Regions from separate parts of the Homo sapiens genome. Here region 2 is linked to region 1. A link means that fine-mapping ties the variant in region 1 to the expression of a gene that starts in the linked region. Tissue or cell type: whole blood. Region 1 holds a variant in brackets; the other region holds the start of a gene. All regions are shown on one strand. Distances are from middle to middle.

Region 1 (5,222 bases):
AATGGATGGAGCAGACATGAATCTAGGAGGTTCCAAAGGTGGTAACAGGAGCTCTGGAAGGAGAAAACAGAAGCGATCAAAGAATTTCAAAAATACTTTTTCTAGAGCTGAAGAGGCAGGAGTCTTCATTGGAAGCCTCTGCCGACTACCAAGCAGGATGAGTCACAAAACAGCCACACTTAAGATCCACAGCTGTGTTCATTTCAGACCCTGCAGATAAGGAGAAGGCCCCGATAACGGGAGAGAGGGAAAAGCCAGGGCCCCCACTGCAAAGGGACAACCAGGGAGGGCTGCACCAATTTGATCAGTGATGATGCACCCTCCTGAACTCTGAGCCAAGCCTTCCACATTCCCAGGGAAAACAATTTTGAACCCAGAATTTTACTCCAAGCTGAACTAGCAATCAAATAAAGGGCAAAAGTACCCATACTGTCATACATGCCGAGGGGCTCTGAAAGCTCTCCATCACGTCCTTCCCGAAAATGCACTCCAGCAAAACGAGGATGAAAACCAAGAAAGGAAGACGTGAAATTCAGAAAAGTGTGGAACTGATCCAAGTGTCCAATACAAATCTCACCTCCTACAAAGTAACCAGTCCAAATGAGATCGCGCGATCCATGAGCTCTAAGCAGAATAATCTTCAGAAGAATGGAAGCAGATTCCAAGCGATAGAGGAAGAAACTGGCATGAGGGGGAAGAGAGCACATGAGTGTTCTCTCAAGAAAAAAAGCAACCCAACATCAGGAAAAATGGCGAGGGGGTGAAGGGGCACTGCATAGGAAATAACCAAAGCTGAAGCCCACACATGGCGTGATCCAGGCAGCTGACAACAGTCCGCTGGACCAGACACTAGGAATGCTCCTTCAAGTGGCAGCCTGCACGGCACGGTAAAAGACATGATTGCTGCATGGTGCTCAGCTCGACAGTGAGCCAGGTTCACATAAGTGAGAATAACCGTATCATCTGCGATTGGTGTTCAACTTTCAGAATTAATGTACAGAGAAGCACCAACGCCTGAATTATGCTCACAGAATGGAATGTCCATGTCATCCATCCTGATAATGTAAATAAAGAAGAAAGAACTGACAAGAGCTGGGAAGGAGACAGGGTCAAGAGATGGTGGCAGGACTGCTCACACCCTCACCCTTCCAAGTGGAGAACCACACAGCGCTTTTGAGAGTTGACCAAATAAGAAAACAGAAGTTTAAATATACAGTTTTAAAGGTATAGCAGTCACCAAGAAACGAATTAAAACTGAAATTACTGCTGACGGTCATAACTGGGGGTGAGGGGAACAGGTGAGCTAAATCCTTGTCTGTTATGTCAAATCCTTACTGGAAAGGTCTGAGGTTGAAAAGAAATAATGGCATAAGATGATTATTTAGAAATACAGGAGTACCCAATGAATGAGCTGAGAGTAGGAAGGGTTAGATGTGAGCTTTGAAGCTGGAGCAGGGAAGAGTGAAACTGAAGACCTTCCATCACAACAACTTCCAGGCCACTGGACTTTAAAGCCCATGCAGTTAGAATTTTGATAACATAATTTTAGGCCGGGTGTGGTGGCTCATGCCTGTAATCCTGGCACTTTGGGAGGCCAAGGTAGGCGGATCACCTGAGGTCAGGAGTTCGAGACCAGCCTGACCAACATGGTGAAACCCTGCCTCTACTAAAAATACAAAATTAGCCAGGTGTGGTGGCGCATGCCTGTAATCCCAGCTACTTGGGAGGCTGTGGCAGGAGAACTGCTTGAACCCGGGAGGCAGAGGTTGCAGTGAGCCAAGATCACACCATTGCACTCCAGCCTTGGCAACAAGAGCAAAACTCCATCTCAAACAAACATAAAATAATAATTTTGGCCAGGCGTGGTGGCTCATGCCTGTAATCCCAGAACTTCTGGAGGCCAAGGCAGGCGGATCATGAGGTCAGGAGATCAAGACCATCCTGGCTAACACAGTGAAACCCCGTCTCTACTAAAAAAAAATACAAAAACAAAATTAGCCAGGCATGGTGGCGGGCACCTGTACTCCCAGCTACTTGGGAGGCTGAGGCGGGAGAATGGCATGAACCCAGGAGGCGGAGCTTGCAGTGAGCTGAGATCGTGCCACTGCACTCCAGTCTGGGCGACAGAGCGAGACTCCATCTCAAAAAATAGTAATAATAATAAACTTTTAAAATGAAAATATCGAGGTCAAGTTTACTGCTATAACATTAACATATTAGTACTTTTCAAACACTGTTAAGCTTCTATGGTGCTTTATTAGAAAGTAGCTCATAGACCAACAGAGGTGAGTTTTGTATTTCAGTTGTCATTTAAATTATATGCCAAAATTGACCTAATCTAAAAGACACATTTTCTCCTACATTTTTATGTCATTGGAATCAAGATGAATTCATTTAATTGGTAGGGTTCCTAGTGGTACATAAATTGTTTATGTTATCTTGTAATCAGGGTGCCTTAGATTTAATAGGGCACTTGCAGAAAATTATGTCAACATACTTTTCCCCACATTATTTGATGAAATCAGATTGTTACATCTATTTCTAATACTCTGCTCTGCTCCCTTGTACTCCAGCCGTATCCTGGTTGTTAGTTTCTTCCTGAACACTCCAGGATCCTGGGACTAACTGTCTCCTAGTCTGGAAAGCTCCTGCACCCAGCCCACCCATTCCTCACAGCGCTGGCTGCTTCTGGTCACCAAGTCTCAGTTTACACATCACTCTCTCGGAGAAGCCTGTTGGCCACCCAATCTAAATCAGCTCTATACCTTAGAGACATTTTCTGTCATATTACCCAATTTTCATCAAAGCAGTTATCCTGATGTTTTCATTTCTCTTTCCTTACTAAAGCTTAAGCTCCAGGAGAGTGGA[C/G]ATCTTGCCTATCTTGTTCAACACCACATCCCCAGCACCTAGAATAGAGCTCGACACCAAGTAGGTGCTCAAATAATTCTAAAATAAATATTTTTTAAAATAGCACTAAGCTATGGACATAACATCTAAACATTTAGTGACTGTGTTTCAAATCTATAAGCAGCATGGCTTCATTATTTTTCAATAGCTAAGAATCTCATAAGTTATTTTGTTAGAAGATCCATTTCTAATGGCTATCCAATTAAATTTTAGAAATATACTAATAGAATATATCAAGTATAATTTCTATAGCATGAAACAAGTCATAACATCTTTAATTCATTTGTACATATTCCAAATTTACCTTTTTTTTTTTTTTTTTTTTTTTGGAGACAGAGTCTTGTTGCCCAGGCTGGAGTGCAATGGTGCAACCTCGGCTCACTGCAACCTCTGTCTCCGGGGTTCAAGCGATTCTCCTGCCTCAGCCTCCCAAGTAGGTGGGATGACAGGCGCCCGCCACCATGCCCGGCTAATTTTTGTATATTTTTAGTAGAGATGGGGTTTCCCTCAGGCTGGTCACGAACTCCTGACCTCAGGTGATCTGCCCACCTCAGCCTCTCAAAGTGCTGGAATTACAGGCGTGAGCCACTGTGATCGGCTCAAACTTACCCACTCTTGACTAGAACTGGTATCAAATGGATGGCAAACTAGGATGAAAACAAAAAGCTTGTTTCAAAAATTCAAGAGTGTCATTACCATCAACTTTTTAAATTTTAAGAAGAGATGGAGGAAAGATGAAGTTTAAAGGACGGTTAATACTTACCATTTTATTTGCCTCAACTCAAGTATTAATTGAAATAGTTTGTCAGATATTGAAGAACGCCTGACAAGAATAATGAATAACTGGCCATTCCTTCAGTACTTGCATTTCACATGTATGACAAAAGGATAAAATAAAAAGGCTGAAATCCCGAGAAAGTCTATTTGTCTGCTTTTTTATTCAAAAAAAAAGCCCATGATTCTTTGGGAGGGGATACAGGATTGTTTTCCAGTCAGATCATAATTTCTACCATCTCTGTGACAATCATAAATTCAAAAGGTTCCCACTCTCCGCACCCCGATTCACTTTTGGCACCTATATATGAAATGTCGCTTCTGAAAAATGGGGAAAAAATGTGAATACTGGGCTCTTCCCACAGTGCTCCTTTCCTGATGAAAATCTTTCAGTTTGCTCAATTTAGAATACTGATGCAAGAAAGTTTAAAGATATGTCATCAATGAAAATCTTTTTCTAACTATCTGGCTATCTTAGAAAATAATTATATTAGAAACAGCAGCCAATTCTCAGAGGCAAAGGGGCGATGGCTTATCTCTCTCTACTTCTAATTTTAAATTTAGAATTACAGAGCAATTCTATGAGAGGTAGCAGAAGGTCTGGCACAGGCTCTGGCTTCATGATTTCAGAATACAACTTTAACTCATCACGTCTTTGGGAAGAGTGTGTGTGACACTTAGCAAGAGGCTCACTAGACCTCCGTGTGCAGTGATGCTGATCAGACAGACACATGCATTCACCACTAGTGGAGAGGGAGGGGCCTAACCAGAGGACAGGCAGTTAGGAGAGGACTTAGCCAAAGAACTTAAAAATATCTACACAAGTGGCAATGTGTGTCATTTATAATGCACACCATTCCTGAGTCTTCACTTGGTCTGCCAAAGAAAAGTTCCTACAGAAAAATCAGGATGCTTACAGGAGAAAAATAACCAACACAGATTATAATAGGCCAATGTTTAAATAAGAGGAAAACAACTCACAACTTTCACTTTTCATATGTGAGGAGGAATCAGAAGCTTGGTATTGACCTATCTGGCGCAATTCAAATTCATTTTTTTAGCTGTTTCAGATCCACAGGGTATTGCCAAGAAGCTTACCCAAAAAATCGGTGGATTTTTCAGTGTTCTTAGAGCTGAAGGGATTTTTCTCAGTACTACTACTAAACTGATAAAAGTGGGAGGGCATCTTACTCCACTCCCTCCTCCAAAACCCACTACAACATCTGTAGTTCAAAACGAAGGATGGTAATGTTATAAAACTAGGAACAAAATAAGATGCTATGACAATTCTTTCTCTTTGTAATTAACAGCTGTTTCCTATCTGTGGCACTTTATACATAGCTAAGCTTTTGGGAGGGAAGAAGGGGAGAAGAAAGAAATTCCACAACCTCCTGACAAAGCAGCCCTTCCACTTGCATGGGCTTATTTCTTCTGCCAGCCACAGAGTCACAAATATTTTTCCCCATTTAAAGAAGTTTGAGTGAATGAAGTCGGGGAGAGTGGGAAGCACAAGCAAGAAGTCAACCATAGCCTTCTCTTTA
Region 2 (5,222 bases), 43 kb after region 1:
TGGCTTGGATCAGTGGTCTGTGCCAAGCAGACAGCTGATGCTCAGTAACTGTTAGTTTTTCTCCTCCTTAACTACTCCGCCATGTGATGAAGGAAGAGTTCCTTTTCCTCTGTGCTCGGCTCTCTTTGCGATAACATTCAGAACATACATTCATTTAAAAAAACAAAACGAAAAAAAAACCAAGCGTCTTGCATGTCTAGAGCAGGGGCTGTTTAGCAGTAACTGGAGCCAAGGAAAAGTGGGACTCCTGTATACCATCTGGAGACAAGTTACACTGGAAAACTACAGAGTTCACCTAGATCTCTTCGCACTCTAGTCTTACATTGTCTCCAAATTTAGCTTTCAAGAAAGGTCTCTAATGATGTTTCTAACTTCCATAAGTTACATGAGGGGGGTAAGAATTTAGCAACTAAATGCAAAGAGGCATAGTAGGATTACGTGATTTGGAAGAAAGAATTATCCCTGCCAGACGGGGTGGCTCACACCTGTGATCCCCAGCACTTTGAGAGGCCAAGGTGGTAGGATGGCTTGAGCCCAGCAGTTCGAGACCAGCCTGGGCAACATGGTGAAACCCCATCTCTACAAAAAATACAAAAATTAGCTTGGCATGGTGGTGCAAGACTGTACCAAGCTACTCGGGAGGCTGAGGTGGGAGACTCACCTGAGCCTGGGAGGTGGGGGCTGCAGTGAGCGGTGATCACACCACTCCACTCCAGCCTGGGAAATAGCGCAAGACTCTGCCCCCAAAAACAAACAAAAAAAGGATTATCTCAATTCTCAGGCTTAAAATTTTTCATGGAATCTCAAGCCATCTTCAGTCAAGGCAAGAATTTAGAACTTTTCTACCCTCATCTTCTACCAAAATCTCTTCATATGCCGTGGAAGACTCTAAATCCTGTTTATCCTTATGGTCTAGGTCCCAAGTTCCCAAAAGATATCTAATAACTTACACTATTTTCCACACACAATCCTGGGAAAATGTTCTATTCCTCGGGCAGAGGGAAATCTGGCTGAGATCTCCGATAAGAGTGCTGTTTCCAATGGGAAGCAATGTGAATGGGCAAGGAAGGAAAGCCCCAGATGTGGTCAGAATAAAGCAGACCGGCTGACAACTAAAGCCACGCACAAAGGATATGTCTCCCTGGCCTTCTTCTCCCCCGCTCCTATTTCGTTTAATCCTAACAATTAGGATAACTATCATCACCCTTCTACAGTTGCTGACTCTGGAGCTCAGAGGGGGAAAGATCGTGCTCCACATCACAACACCGGTAAACTCTCAGAACCTGCATCAAACCCAGGTCTTCAAACTCACCCCTCCTGTTTTTCCCAATATGCAGTGCTACCTTTCATGGTCGGCCCATTTCTGGGAACTTCGATACTGTGCTTCTATTGCTCCAGGTTTAAGGAGCATTCTGAGCCTTGACCGGTTCTGAGCTTTGACATCCAACAATCTTATGGCTCTGCTTGGAACATCAGTCATTGACACCTCTAAAAGATTCACTATCCCCTCTGATACTCCATGCCCACCATCCATCCCCAAAACTTCAGAAGAAATGAGGTTAGGAAACCAGGACAGAGCAGAAAGTGCACTGTTCTACAAGGGCTGAAGATGAGTCACAGGTAACCCAGATGAGCAATCAGCCAAGTCTCTTCCACGGCCAATTCATTCAGTCCGCCAGGCACAAGCACTTCTCTCCCGAAGACTCACCTGATAAGAACACCAAAGTTCCAACGTTTCTCGTTGGAAATGAGCACAGAGAGGACACTGCTCACACAAGCAGTGTGGACGCAGCAAGCTCCGCGCCCCGCAACCCTGCACCGAGCACGGTTAACCTCACACTCCCACAGGCGGCAAGAACCGGGACGGCGATGCCCAGTCCAGGCGCTTCCCCTTAGAAGCCCCTTCGCCGCTGGCCCCTATCAGAAAGGAAAGGGGAGGAGGCTGGGGGAGAAACAACTTTATGCTCATTTGCAAGACAGGACCAAAACAAAACCAGCAAACCGAAGCCCTTTAGGAACACCGCCCAGTTCACGGCGCGTGCAAGTTCCGAGGGCAGTTAAGTTTTTGCAACACTTCCCAGCCCTGACCCTGCCCAAGCCGCGGCCGGAGGACTGAGGAAGTGGACGGTCCCGAGCGGGAGGCCCGCGGCAGGAAGTGGAAGCAGAGCCATCTGCGGGATAGGGAAGGAACCGCGGCTACAAGGGAGAGGCGGAGGCCGCCCCCACTTCCTCAGCCCCAGGCAGCCCAGGAAGCCGAGACTCCCCCAGGGAGTCCTCCCGGAGCGGAGCGGGGCCGCTGCCGGGGCGTCGCCCTCCGCCGGCCTCGGGGCGCGACATGTCCTGCCGCCGCCCGGCCACAGCCCGGCACGGAGGGAGCAAGAGGCTGCGGGCGTGCGGCGTACCCCACTCCCCAGCCCGCGCCCCACCCCGCCCGGGGCCCGCGGGCGCCGCGCCCTTACCAGGGACCAGTCCCGCCGCCTCCGCCGTCCGCACCCGGCCCGCAGCTCTTAAACGCGCCCCGCCCCCTCCCGGGGCCGGACCCCAGCCGTCCTCCACCGATTTGTCATTGAGCTGCCGGGCTCGCTTTCCCACCCCCCGAGCGCGCCTCCGGCGTCGCCTAGGCAACCCCTCCTCTCGAGAGCGCGCCCTCGCTTCCGTTCTTGCCCTCTCCTCGGAAGCCACGCCCGTCGGGGGGCTGTCAGCCAATCCGAGGCTGATTTTCCAAGCAGCGGGCGGCCGGGGAGGAGGTTTCACCAATGAGAAGCTGCCCCAGGCACGGGGGGGCGGGCCCAGCGCGCCTGCCCCGTCCCCCTCTGTTTCTCTCTCTGCCCCTCGGACACGCAGCTGGTAACCCTGCGGCAGTGGAGGAGCTGCCCGCCGGTATTGAGGGCGGGTGCGGGTGCACAAGGTGGGGCGCCAGTTGTGGGATTCAGGCCAGGGCTAGGACGAAGTAATGGAAAGCAAAAGCGAAGGACAGACCTGATCATACAGAAACAGAAGAAAATTACGAGGTGGCGAAGAGTGCTGGAGCGCGGCGATGGGGATGCCGCCCGGGGGTCTTGGGGCGGGACTCCACCTGCCGCCACCACTCGCTTCGCTGATGACATCCCATTAGCAGTAATGGAGTTAGTGAGTGCATGGCGGAGACTGGACCCAGGCCGCCTACAAGGGCCAGAATCCCACCCCAGCCATAGCCTCGAGGCAGGAAGTGCAGTGGGCAAGCTCCCTGCCAAAGCCCAGGAACGTGTGATTTTGTATCCAGTACAGCTTCATCTCGGTGGATTTTCCTTCCTAACCACCTCCTCCTCCACAGGTTTTGTGACCGTGCTGACCCCTACGCAGACCTCATGAGAGTCACAAGCCATCGCAACTGACAGTTTAAACGTCTGCCTCTTATCTCTAAGGGAGGGAACTATCTCTTATGCAATGTGATATCCATGGCTGCTAGCACAGTGTAATTAATTCTTTCATTGTTGATCATTGTAAGTTAGGATGCATGTGTATACTATATTGGAGGCTTTGGGCCATGATTAGATTGCTATGTATCTACCAGATCCAGTCCCTCCATCAGCATCTATATCAAAAAGCACAGAAGCTTTACCTTAGTCTTAAGTGACCAACTTAACAAAAAAGTGCAATCAGAAGAATATCCTAGTGTTAGCCTACTAAGTATTCTGTTTTTACCATTCTCATTCACATTTAAAACTTTTATTGAGTGCTAATCGTATGACAGACACTTTGCTAGGTACAGTAAGGAGATGGGGTAGGAGGCTTCTCAAAGAGGAAGCTCCCTAGTATTTATAACCTAGAAGAGGAATCAGACCCAAACCTTTTCTTACGGAGTAACAGTTAAGTGCACAGGTTTGGAGTCTGGAAGCATAGGATTAAAGGAGGGCTCTACCTTGTGACTAGCAGTTACTTAATTAGGAAACTACTTCTGTGGGCTTTAGTTTCACCAGCTGCCCAATAGCAGCACCTCCATGCTATAGGTAAGAAGATGTACATGCAAGTCCACATAGAGCTCTCAGTACAGTGCTAGGAACTTGGTGAGTGCCTCAGGAATGTGAGCTTACATTAGTGATTGCCACCAGAGGCCACGATGTACAGTCAAGTGTGTGATCACCAATCTGGTACAGCCTTATCTCCCAAAGCCCATCTGTATCAAGTGTGACCGCGTGCAGCCTGGTGGAAAGGGCCTGCTGTGGTGGTACCCTTTGTCAAATGCAAGTATAGAGAGGAGAGCAGCTGCAGCAGCCTACCCAAGTGAAAAGGGTATGATAGTTGAGGGAACAGGGTCAGAAATCAGGCCACAGGCCAGGATTCTACTGTTCCCACCTGCCCCCCATCCCCTAGGACCCACAGCAGATGCAGGAGGTTTCCCCACCTTTTCTGGGGTGCTGAAGTGCCATTCCTTTGCATTGGTAACAGGATGCACAGGGCTTTCTGAGAAATGCTGCTTTCATTCTCTGCCTGCCTAGAACTCGGAGGGGTCCTACTGGGACTCCTCCAGCAGGATCATCTATTCAGATCCTGGACATGCCAGACCCTGAGCTGTGCAGTATATTCAGAGAGGAGTGGCAGGACCCTTTTGGCGGGGCTGTCTCACACAGGACACCAATAGGGGAAACGTGTCCCAACGGGAGAAGGGAACCAAGAGGCCACCAGCCTCAGCTGCCTCTAAGGTGGCTCATTCCAGGTCTCAGGGGACCTCTTGTCTGCTGAGTTTCCCTACCAGAACTCTGACTCCCAGCAGAGCCAGGGGCTTGAGCAGCAGAAATACAAGATCCCCAGCAGGACTCCTTAAGGATGCTGTAAACGACTGCTGCCATGGAAAGAGCATTCTAGACACTCCATCCTTCTAAAGTATTTATTGATTACTGTGGGAGTCTTTAGTGCTGTCTGACAAACATTTCTACTCCTCTCTTGTGAGCACTGGAAACTTCCTAGCCCTGTAGTTGGGTGGAGCCATGTGACTAGCTCTAACCGATCACTTGTGAGCAGAAATGACACATAATCATTTCTAGGCTGGAGAAATTAATTGCCAATATAAGACCCTCCAGAGCTCTCTTGTCCTTGGTATGGCTACTGAGAATGTTAGGAAATGTGACTGCTCCATCAGCCAGGGTTTCTACAATGAGCACAGGCCCCCTACCAACCTGTGATGGACATTTAGAATGACTGAGAAATAAGCCCTTATGGTTTGAAGACACTACGATGTGGGA

The links. PIP is the estimated chance that this variant, and not a neighbour inherited with it, causes the effect.
Region 2: RALB starts here. The variant in region 1 is fine-mapped to the expression of RALB in whole blood (INTERVAL, PIP above 0.99).

Annotation. Positions count from the first base shown.
Region 1 is chr2:120,293,315-120,298,536 of GRCh38, reverse strand. It overlaps RALB (RAS like proto-oncogene B), which reads right to left. Exons shown (of 5, transcript NM_002881.3): 5 at 3,827-5,222. Among named protein-coding and RNA genes, the nearest start is that of RALB, 43 kb to the right of the region's middle. The variant C/G (reference allele first, on the strand shown) is at 2,869.
Region 2 is chr2:120,250,218-120,255,439 of GRCh38, reverse strand. RALB (RAS like proto-oncogene B) reads right to left here and starts at 2,588. Exons shown (of 5, transcript NM_002881.3): 1 at 2,460-2,588. RefSeq lists an enhancer at 1,536-1,805 and a silencer at 2,306-2,895.